Homo sapiens: one gene and its partners. The protein of the gene in region 3 interacts with the protein of the main gene of each other region in a biochemical or structural test. Each region holds a gene or a part of one and is shown on either strand. Other genes may lie near its edges. The genes, in order: RSBN1, LSM14A and APBA3.

What was found.
Region 1: the proteins of APBA3 (region 3) and RSBN1 interact in a test that uses a peptide from one of them, tested with the Homo sapiens proteins (one large-scale study listed by IntAct).
Region 2: the proteins of APBA3 (region 3) and LSM14A interact in a test that uses a peptide from one of them, tested with the Homo sapiens proteins (one large-scale study listed by IntAct).

Annotation. Positions count from the first base shown.
Region 1 is NC_000001.11:113,805,973-113,809,623, reverse strand, and holds part of RSBN1 (lysine-specific demethylase 9), read left to right. Parts: intron 1-3,651. UniProt on the Homo sapiens protein: Histone demethylase that specifically demethylates dimethylated 'Lys-20' of histone H4 (H4K20me2), thereby modulating chromosome architecture.
Region 2 is NC_000019.10:34,178,896-34,182,546, reverse strand, and holds part of LSM14A (protein LSM14 homolog A), read right to left. Parts: intron 1-3,651. UniProt on the Homo sapiens protein: Essential for formation of P-bodies, cytoplasmic structures that provide storage sites for translationally inactive mRNAs and protect them from degradation. Acts as a repressor of mRNA translation. May play a role in mitotic spindle assembly.
Region 3 is NC_000019.10:3,751,693-3,755,343, forward strand, and holds part of APBA3 (amyloid-beta A4 precursor protein-binding family A member 3), read right to left. Parts: intron 2,649-3,651; coding exon 2,503-2,648; intron 2,414-2,502; coding exon 2,327-2,413; intron 2,235-2,326; coding exon 2,073-2,234; intron 1,299-2,072; coding exon 1,128-1,298; intron 1,029-1,127; coding exon 816-1,028; intron 1-815. UniProt on the Homo sapiens protein: May modulate processing of the amyloid-beta precursor protein (APP) and hence formation of APP-beta. May enhance the activity of HIF1A in macrophages by inhibiting the activity of HIF1AN.

The DNA of each region.
Region 1 (3,651 bases), on a different chromosome or scaffold from region 3:
AGAATTTTTTGGTCAAATACATTTGAGAAAAACTGTGTACTGTAGCCTTCTACATATGTAACATGAATTGGCAAACTGGCATTTTAAAAGTTTTGAAAACCCTACAGAAAATAAACTGGTTTAACTTTGTTTAATCCAGGCTTTTGCACATAGTTTGACTGATATCTTTTTTGTCCTCTGAACATCTTTATTGTTACAGTGGTATGCAGGAGGCATGCCTCTGGTATTAATCTGAGTTTAAATCATGGCTCTAACACTTACTGTGTGAGCCTGAACAAATTGCTTTACCCTCTCTCAACTGCACTTTTCCTGTCTATAAAATGGGGTTGTGGTATTTCATTTATAAGGAACTTGTGTGGATTAAATAGGGCATTGTGTGAAAGTACTTACAGCAGTGCCTGGCTCATTGTAGGCACTTACTTAAAACCGGCCTTTATTATTTTATTATGCATGGTCCCTAAAACAACTCTAAGATTAATAAGGAGAGTGGGCAGATTCTTGTTACTTACAAAGCTATGTCCTTCCTTCGCTTATCCTCAGATTTTTGGAAACTATTTTAACTGTTTTTTTTTTTTAGATAATTAATGATTCACAGGAAATTGCAAACATAGTCAAGTCCTTACCTTTTACCAGTTTCCCTCAGTGGCTACATCTTACATAACTATTGTATAATATCAACACCAGGAAATTGACATTGGTACAATGTATATGTAGTTATATGCTATTTTATCATATGTAGATTAGTGTAACCACCACTACAATCAAGATACAGAACTGTTCCACCACCACAAACCCTTTACAGCCTTAGGCACTCCCTCTGTCTCTCTACTGTCCCTGTCCTCTGGCAGCCACTAACCTGTTTTGTCATTTTGAGACTATTATATAAGTTGAATCATACAGTATGTGATCTTTGGAGATTGCCCTTTTTCACTCAGTGTGATGTCCCTGAGATCCATCCCTCTTTTTCATTGCCGAATAGTGTTCCATGGTATGGATGTACCATGGTTCACCTATTGAATCATTCCCGTATAAGAAAGGACATTTTGATTATTTCTAGTTTTTGGCTATTATAGATAGAGCTTCTATGAAAATTGGTGTTCAGGTTTTTGTGTGCATGTAACTTTTCATTTCTTTGGTCGTATGGTAAATACAATTAGCCCTCTGTATCCATGGGTTCCACATCAATGGATTCAGCCAACCTGGGATTGAAAATATTTTCAAAAAAACATTGTCTGTACTGGACTTGTGCAGACTTTTTTTTTCTTGTCACTGTTCCCTAAACAATACAGTATAACAATTATTTATATAGCATGTACATTGTATTAGGTATAAATAATCTGGAGATGATTTAAAATATAGGGGAGGATGTGCATAGGTTATAAGCAATTATTATGCCATTTTATATGAAGGACTTGATCATCTTGGATTTTGTTGCCCTGGGAGGCTCTGGAACCAATCCTCCATGGATACCAAGGATGACTATATATATTTATTTTGTTTGTTTGTTTTTTAAGATACTGCCAAAGTATTTTCTGGAGTGTCGGTACCATTTTACATTCCTGTCAGCGGTGTAAGAGAAATCCATTTTCTCCACATTCTTGCCAGTATCTGGTATTGTCACTATTTTTATTTTAGCAATTTTAATAGACGTGTGGTGATACATCATCATGATCTTAATTTGCATTTCCCAAATGGCTAGTGATAATACACATCTTTTCATATCATCATTTGCTGTCTATATATCCTGGTCAGTAAAATGTCTCTTTATACCTTTTGCCTATTTTCTAATTGAATTTTGTGTGTGTGTGTGTGTGTGTGTGTGTATACATATACATATATATATATATATAATTTTTTTTTTTGAGACAGAATTTCACTCTTGTTGCCCAGGCTGGAGAGCAATGGTGCAATCTCGGCTCACTGCAACCTCTGCCTCCCGGGTTCAAGCGATTCTCCTGCCTCAGCCTCCCGAATCGCTGGGATTACAGGTGCCTGCCACCACACCCAGCTACTTTTTTATATTTTTAGTAGAGACGGGGTTTCACTGTGTTGGCCAGGCTGTTCTCGAACTCCTGACCTCAGGTGATCCACCCGCCTCAGCCTCCCAAAGTGCTGGGATTTCAGGCGTGAGCCACTGCGCCCGGCCCTTGAATTGTATATTTTTTATTACTGGGTTTTGATAATTTTTTGTAGATCACAGGTGCAGCTTCTTTGTATGGTTTGCACATATTTTCTCCCAATCTGTTGCTTGTCTTTCCATCCTTTTTGTTTGTTTGCTTGTTTTTATTTTGGTTGTTTTTTTTTTTTTTTGAGATGGATTCTCACTTTGTCACCCAGGCTGGAGTGTAGTAGCACGATCCTGGCTCACTGCAACCTCCACCTCTTGGGTTCAGGCGATTCTCCTATGTCAGCCTCCCGAGTAGCTGTGATTACAGGCATCTGCCACCATGCCCGGCTAATTTTTGTGTTTTTCAGTAGAGACGGGGTTTCGCCATATTGGTCAGGCTGGTCTTGAACTCCTGACCTCAGGTGATCCGCCCGCCTTGGTCTCCCAAAGTGCTGGGATTACAGGCATGAGCCACCACGCCCAGCCTGTTTGTTTTTGTTTTTTTGGGGAGGGTCTCACTCAGTTACCCAGGCTGCAGCACAGTGATGTGATCATGGCTCACTCTAGCCTCAACCTCTGGGGCTCAAGTGATCCTCCCACCTCAACCTCCTGAGTAGCTGAGACCACACGTGTGCACCACCACACCTGGCTAATGTTTTTTTTTTTTTTTTTTTTTTTGATAGAGGCAGGGTCTCTCTGTGTTGTCCAGGCTGGTCTCAAACTCCTGGGCTTAAGTGATCCTCCCGCCTTGGCCTACCAAAGTGTTGGGATTACAGACAGGAGCCACTGTGCCTGGTCCTTTCTACCTTCTCAGTGGGATACTTCACAGAGCAAAAATTTTAAATTTTGTTGATATCCAATTTACTAAGTTTTTTTTTTTCTTTAATGGATCATGTTTTTGGCATCATATCTAACATACCAAGTCCTAGATCCCAAAGATTTTCTCCTTTGTTTTCTTCTAAAAGTTTTATAATTTTAACTTTTGTATTTTAATCTGTCATCCATTTGAGTTAATTTTGTACAGGTGTGAGGTTTAGGTCGCCATTTTTTTTCTTCTTGCCTAAGGATATCCAGTTGCTCTAGCACCTTTTGTTGAAAAGATTAATCTTCCATTGAATTGCTTTTGCACTTTTTTCAAAAATCAGTACAACCTGTAATGTAACAATGATTTTTTTTTTTTTTTTGAGACAGAGTCTCGCTCTGTGCCAGGCTGGAGTGCAGTGGTGTGATCTCAGCTCAGTGCAACCTCCACCTCCTGGGTTCATGGGAATCTTATGCCTCAGCCTCCTGAGTAGCTGGGATTACAGGCGCCCACCACCACACCCAGCTAATTTTGTATTTTTAGTAGAGATGGGGTTTCACCATGTTGGCCAGACTGGTCTCAAACTCCTGACCTCAGGTGATGTGCCTCCCACAAGTGCTGGGATTACAGGCATGAGCCACTGTGCCTGGCCTAACAATGGTTTTTACAATTTAAAATAGTTGGAACGACCTTGTAGCGCATGGAAATCATACGAAATTTAAACTGTGTCCAGAAATAAAGC
Region 2 (3,651 bases), about 30 Mb from region 3:
CTCTTCAGATTCACAAGGTCCACAGAGAAACACTCAGAGGAAAAATCAAACCAAACCAAAAAACAAACAAACAACAACAAACCAGTGTGATCACATTTGTGAATTCCAGGAATAGAGAATTCTAAATAAAAGCTTCCAGAGAGAAAAGTGACTGAGAGTCAGACTGGCATCAGCAACCCCAGAATATTAGAAGAACAAAAAGCAGTAACTTCAAAGTTCCACAGAAAAAAGACTCTTAATTTGGAAATACATAGCCAACCAACCAGTCAAGCACAAGAAAACATAGGTTCACTAAGAAAATTTGTCACCTACATTTCCCATATATTTTATTTTTTAATTACAAAGATTCACTCAAGTAAAATTGGGAGGAGGAGAAAGAATCAACTGAGAGGTCAATATTGGAAACAAGAAACAGGAATCTGAGTATCTCTGAATAGACTAGTGAGAGATAATGGACCAGGGTAGTAGGGGTGGTCAGAGGTCAAATTCTGCATCTAGTTTGAAAGCAGAGCTGATAGGTTCGGATCACATGAGGTGAGACAGAGAGAGAGGAATTAAGGATGGCTCCAAGGTGTTTTGGTCTTACCAACTAGAATAGAGCTGTCATTTGATTAGATGGGGAAGGCTGATGGAGGAACAGGTTTGGAGCATGCTGAATTGAGATTCTAGCAGACTTCCCTACAAGTAGAGATGTTAAAGAGGCAATGGATATACAAGTCAGGAGTTCAGAGGAGAAATTCAGGCTAGAGATAGGAGTCAGTGATATACAGGTAGTATTTGAAACCAGGAACTAGATGGATGAGATCATCAAAAGAATGCAGATGATTAAATAAATGTTAACAGACAGAGAGAAAAGGGGAGATAACTGAGCCCTGGAGCTCTCCCAACATTTGGCGGCTTACAGGTTCAATCAGCCAAGGAGATTGAGAGGTAACCAGTGAGATATGAGGAAAAAAATGGCATACGATCAAGTTAAGAAAATGCTTCACAGAGAACAGACTAACTGTACCACGTAATGCTGACTGGTGAAGTAGAATGAGACTAAGAACTAACTACTGGATTTGGTAACATGGAAATCTTTGGTAATTTTGATAAGAAAACTTCATATGTAGGAATAAAAACCTTAGTAAACAGGGCTCAAAAATGAATGAACACCAGTGGTGTAGACAACTTCTTCAAGGGGTTTCGCTATAAAGGGAAGGATAGAAATGGGGTAATCATTAGAAAAGAGGAAATTCAGTTCAAGTACAGTGGGGTTTTTTGGTTGTTCTTAAGGTAGAAGAAATAACTGCCTATCTGTAAGCAGACAGAAAGATACGTTAGGGAAGGAAAAACTGAGGAGAGTAGAGAACTGCTGGAGCAATGTTCTTGAATCACCAAGAGGGGACAAATGCTGCACAAGTGGAAGGGTGGTCTTAGACAGAAATAAGAACAGTTTATCCATATTGATCAGAAAAAAACATAGAAGTCTGGGGAACAGATGCAGGTAACTGGGTATGTGAGGGGTAAGTTTATCAAAATTATCTTTCGTTTGCTGTTCTTTTCTCAGTTAACTGCTATAGAAAGCACGGTTAAGGGGCTGAAAGTGAATATGGGGGAGGTGTTGGAGGCTTGAGGAAAATGAATGGAATAGCCATGTAGAAAAGTGAAATGGATTATGGAAGTATAGTGTGACTGCTAGGAAGTGACCATGACTGCGGAGGCTAGCGAACATAAATTTAGAGTGAGGCTGGTCAGCACATCTGTGTTGATATAATCAGGGTTGTGATTTCTTGTATAAGACAGCAAGAGGGGAATGGGGTGGGGGCTGAGGGAATGTGTACTGACTGTCGTGGTTGCTCATGGAGTTGAAGCAGGATAAAGAAGGAAGTAAAGTTATGAGGGGAATGAGAGGACAGTGAAAGGCAGTAAGATGACAGTAGACTACAGTAGGTGTGAATGACTGACTGAGTTGGGCTACTAGAGAGACTGAGCACCTAGACAGAGAGGGAGATCGTGGTGGGAAATAACATGGGACAGCTATTCTCTATTAAGCACCAACATTAAACTAGTTACTTCTTTTATATCACCTCATTTAATTATCAGAATGACTCTGAAAGATGGGCATTATTATCCATCCCTATTGAAAAGATGAAGAAGTTAAAGCTAAGGTTAAATAACTTGTCCAAGACCAAAAAGCTGCTAAGTATTCCAACTGGCATTTTGGGTCGCATTTTCTTCCAGAAAAAAACAAACAAACAAAAAACCCTACAAAACTAGAATAAGGCCCTTGGGAATAAATTATTTTACAGACCAACTCACACTTTGTCCACTAAAAAACTTACTTCAAGCCAGACACTGTGGCTCACACCTGTAATCCCAGCACTTTGGGAGGCCAAGGCAGGCAGATCACTTGAGCCCAGGAGTTAGAGACCGACCTGGGCAGCATGGCAAAACCCTGTATCTACAAAAAACAGAAAATTAGCTGGGTGTGGTGGTGTGTGCCTGTGGTCCCAGCTACTTGGGAGGCTGAGGCAGGAGGATTACCTGAGCCCAGGGAGGTCAAGGCTGTGATCGTGCCACTGCACTCCAGCCTGGGCAACAGAGTGAGACTCTTGTCTCAAAACAACAACAACAAAATTTACTTCAATGGTATCTAGTTTTTAAAACAGCTAATTAATATATTATTTTATAGCATCATGAGAGAAAGACAAATTGTTTCTATAGCAAGCATCTTCTAGCACGGAATAATTAAATTCAAGTTAAACTATCTGTAGTTACTGCTATTATTACTGTGGCACTGAGTTAAATACAAAACTCCTGCTATGTATCATGCACAGATAAGATTTCTTTTTTCTTCCTACTTCCTTCCTTCTACTATTTTTTTTCTTCAGTTTTATGCTGTTTTCTTTACTTCCGACTTAGAAAATCATGGCTTACCTTACTTACCCCTACTAGAAAATGAACAGTTTCTGGCACCTGACTTCAGACTCCCAGAATTACCAAGTATTTCTGCGGACTATGTAACAATAATAAACTGTTTCCAAGGCTCCAAGTACTGGCAACATCACTAAATAGGGCAACAAAAAGAAACTGTGGCTTGAAGTTTCACTAGATCTTTGTCATTTTAGATAGTAATTTTGTGAATTGCTAGATTTAGATCCCCAAGTAATGCAAGAAATCAAATAAAGCACCCCGCAAGTATTTTATCCATCACACAAAGCTCTTCCACTCTCTCCAATAAGGTAATAGTTTATGACTATGTGACTAACATCAAGAAGTAGATAAATTATGCCAATGAGCCAGACTTAGCAGATGATTAAAGAAATCTGTTAACAATTTACTTGTTTTTCTATTCTTCCACCAATCTCTTGATTTTAAGAACAACTTATTTTAAAGGCAAGTGGCTTATATAATCGTTCTTCATAAAGTCTCTTTTCCCAGTGCAGTAGCAACCTGGTTTCCATTTGAATGATTATCCAGGTAAGCTAACTAAATGTAAGAATTTATTTTTTATAAGAATTTCATTCATTTTAGCCTATTTAGGCATCCTACTCACTTATAGACGTAGGTGCAAACACAACTGGAACTATTCCATAAAATATTCATACATGTCACCACTGTGTAATTTCTTCCTACACCCTGAATGGAGGCTTCCTTTAAACTTTAAAT
Region 3 (3,651 bases):
TGATAGAGAACAGACTCGGGCCCGGTGGGCATGGGGTCGAAGCTGTCTGACCCGAGCCATATCGCTTCCTTATGGCCAAAAGCCAAGCCGACAGCCGGGCTCTCCAGGCAGGCTGCAAACATCTGTAAGAGGCTGCACGGACTGTGGCCTCATTCCTCTGACGGGGGCAGGTCCCTCCCTATCTCTGGGCCTCAGTTTCCCCATCTGAGCAACAAAGGTTGAGACTCAAAAACATGGCCAGGTGCAGTGGCTCACACCTGTAATCCCAGCACTGTGGGAGGCCGAGGCAGGTGGATCACTTGAGGCCAGGAGCTCAAGACCAGCCTGGCCAACCAACATAGTGAGACTCCATCTCTACAAAAAATAAAACAATAAACTGGGCGTGGTGGTGCACACCTGTGGTCCCAGCTACTCGGGAGGCTGAGGAAGGAGATTTGCTTGAGCCCAGAAGGTCAAGGCTGCAATGAGCCAGGTGCACCGCTGCACTCCAGCCTGGGCAAGAGTGAGACCTTGTCTCAAACAAACAAACCCCCCCAGAAATTAGCTGTTTCTTGTTAGAGAGAGAGAGTGGCCCAGCCCTGGAGCTGGGCCACCCGCATTTCCATCCTGGCTCTGGTACTAGGGAGGTGCCCTGGACAAGTGGCCTCCCTTCTCCAGGCCTCAGTTTCCCCAAGGGCACACCAGTGGGCAGGACTTAAAAGTTCGACTTTGTCCCTCCTGGCTGGGCTGGAGAGACCTGGCCAGGGAGGAGACCTCTCTGGGACTCAGCTCCCCTTCCTGGGAGTGTGGGGGCCCTGCCACACCAGGAAACTCACGCGGACAGCGGCCTGGCACGCAGCCAGGGGCAGCCCCACCAGGCTGGTCCCGTTGATGGCGGTCAGGCGGTCCCCGATGCTGAGGGCCCCCGAGCGCTCAGCAGGCCCCCCGTGCAGCAGGTTGGCGATGACGGCTGTGGGCAGCAGGGAGCCCCAGCCCGACTCCACCAGGGCCACGCCCAGGCCCTCCCCTCGCCGCTTCTCGAGGTGCACCTGGGACACACAGGGGGCGCGGAGGCTGCTCAGCAGGGCCCGGTGCAGGTGCACGGGTGTGGGGGGCACCAGGTGGGGGCTGCCCAGCACCTCACTCACCTCCCGGCAGTTGTCACTGTTGGAGAAGTGGTCCAGGTCCCCATTATGGAGGTGGCAGGCGCCTGGGCTCGGGTGCACGCCCACCTGGCTGGGGTCAATACCGCTTTCCCGTAGGAACTGGCTGTAGGCGGCGGCGAAGGCCTGGCCAATGGCCTGGGCGATGAGCTGGGCCTGCGGGGAGGAGTGGCGCGTCCCTGGGGTGTCCCACCCACCTCCTCCAGGTCCCCAAAGTCCCCAGGGTCCTCAGAGCTGAGCCCTCCTGTCCCCACCTGGGGTGAGAGTCCCAGGACACAGCCTTCTGCCCTGGGGCTTTGGGGGAGGTGGAGAGACAGCCGCATCTTGGGGAATCTACGGGGAGAAGGAAGGGGAGGGGCAGCCCTGGGCTGGGGGGACGATGAGGGAGGCAGCTCCCTGCGCATGGGCTGTGGGAAAAGCTATCAAAGACCCAGCCAGGGGGCCTGGGGCCTCATGGGTGGCAGGGACAGCCCAGGAGCGGGCAAGGTTTCGGGGAGTCGGCCGAGAGTCTTGGAGTCTTATAGGAGGCTGGACGCGGTGGCTCACGCCTGTAATTGCAGCACTTTGGGAGGCTGAGGTGGGTGGATCGCTTGAGCCCAGGAGTTTGAGACCGTGTTCACCTGGGCAACAGAGCGAGACCGTGTCTCTATAAAAAATACAAAAATTAGCCAGGCATGGTGATACCCCGGTGGTCCCAGCTACTAGAGAGGCTGAAGTGGGAGGATCGCTTGAGCCTGGAAGGTTGAGGCTGCAGTGAACTATGATTGCGCCACTGCACTCCAGCCTGGGTGACAGAAGGAGACCTTGTCCCAAAAAAAGAATTTAAAAATAAGCTTATGGGAGGGAGGTTAAATGCACGGCCCACTGAGGGAGGCGACAGTTGCAGTGAGGAGGGCCTCAGGAGGGTGGCCCCGCGCCCTGGCTGCTCACGTCCTCCGCGTAGAATACGTGGCAGAGCATCTTGTAGAGGCGGCGGCCGTGGTCCTGGGGTGCCGGCCTCCGTGCCAGCCGCCGCCGCGCCATCAGCACCAGCACGCAGCCGATGTCGGCTGTGTAGGAGATGGTATGCAGGGCGTGGTCCATCATGGCCTCCTGGGGCGGGAGAGGCAGCCTGGGTGGGTTGGGGGGCCGTGCCAGGCTCGATCACCCCACCCGCATCCCTGGGGCGGGTCCCTGCCCCGTACCTGGGAGTCCGCTGTCAAGACCTTGATCCTCTTGGTGGAGACGAACAGGTCCACCTCCGTCATGGGCTGGGTCTCCCCATCGGGGGCCTGTGGGTGGCGGCGTGGGAGGTGGAGGCCCCCACAGACCCAGCCTGCAGCCCACCCGCCTGCCCGCCCGGCCCCGGCCGCCCCCTCACCTTGACGCGGTCCATGGCCTCCCGGGCCTGGGCCATGCGCGTGCTGGTGGGCGGGTTCCGTTCCGACACCAGCTGGGTGGACCCCAGGTACCTGGCCCCAAATATGACACCGTCCAGGAGGTCTTCATGGTCACAGGGACCAGGCACTGAGGGCGACAGCGAAGAGGGTCGGCCCCCAGGGGCCCACTCCCACAGGCTCTGCCCCAGGGCTACGCTCTCCGAGATGGCCGGGAGACACAGTGTTCTAGCTGGTGGCTTAGCACTCTCCAGCCAGGAAGCACAGCCCACTGTTCTAGAACCATCCAAGCAGCCTGGCCCTCACAGGTCTAGAACCTTCTGTCCATCCCTCAAGGACTCGCAGGTGGGAAACCAGTGAGTCCAGGCCATGGCTGGATTCAAAGCCAGATCTAGCACCCACAGATACCTTCACCCCGTGTCCCCAGAATTCCATGATCAGGCCGGAACCAGACAGTCCCACTCCTGCTTTTTTGAGACACGGTCTCGCTCTGTCGCCCAGGCTGGAGCTCGGTGGTGTGATCTCAGCTCACTGCAACCTCCGCTTCCTGGGTTCAAACGATTCTCCTGCCTCAGTCTCATGAGTAGCTGGGATTACAGGCGCCCACCACCACGCCTGGCTAGTTTTTGTATTTTTAGTAGAGACGGGGTTTCGCCACGTTGGCCAGGCTGGTCTCAAACTCCCGACCTCAAGTGATCCACCCGCCTTGGCCTCCTAAAGTACTGGGATGACAGGCGTGAGCCACGACGCTCCACCCCCCACTCCAATTTCGAAACCTCCACAACATTCTAGAACCACAGTGGACCCCTGCTTCTTGGTTCTGGAATTCCCTCCATCAATCTAGAACTGGCCAGCTCTGCCCACTGTTCTAGAACCGTCTGCAGTCAGCCCAGGATAGCAGGCAGCTCTGTTCCCGGGTTGTAGAACCACTCAGAACAGAGACAGACCCTGCTGCCTGTCTAAAATTCCCATACTCTCCAGAACCCCAGCTGGTTCTGACCCTTGATTCCAGAACTCTCTGACAGGTCTCATAGCAATTCTGTCAGGAGTTTTAGAATCTTATTATCACTCTAGAATCAGACTTCTCTGCTCCGTGATTCCAGAACATCTTAATCACAATCGCGTCAGGCAGC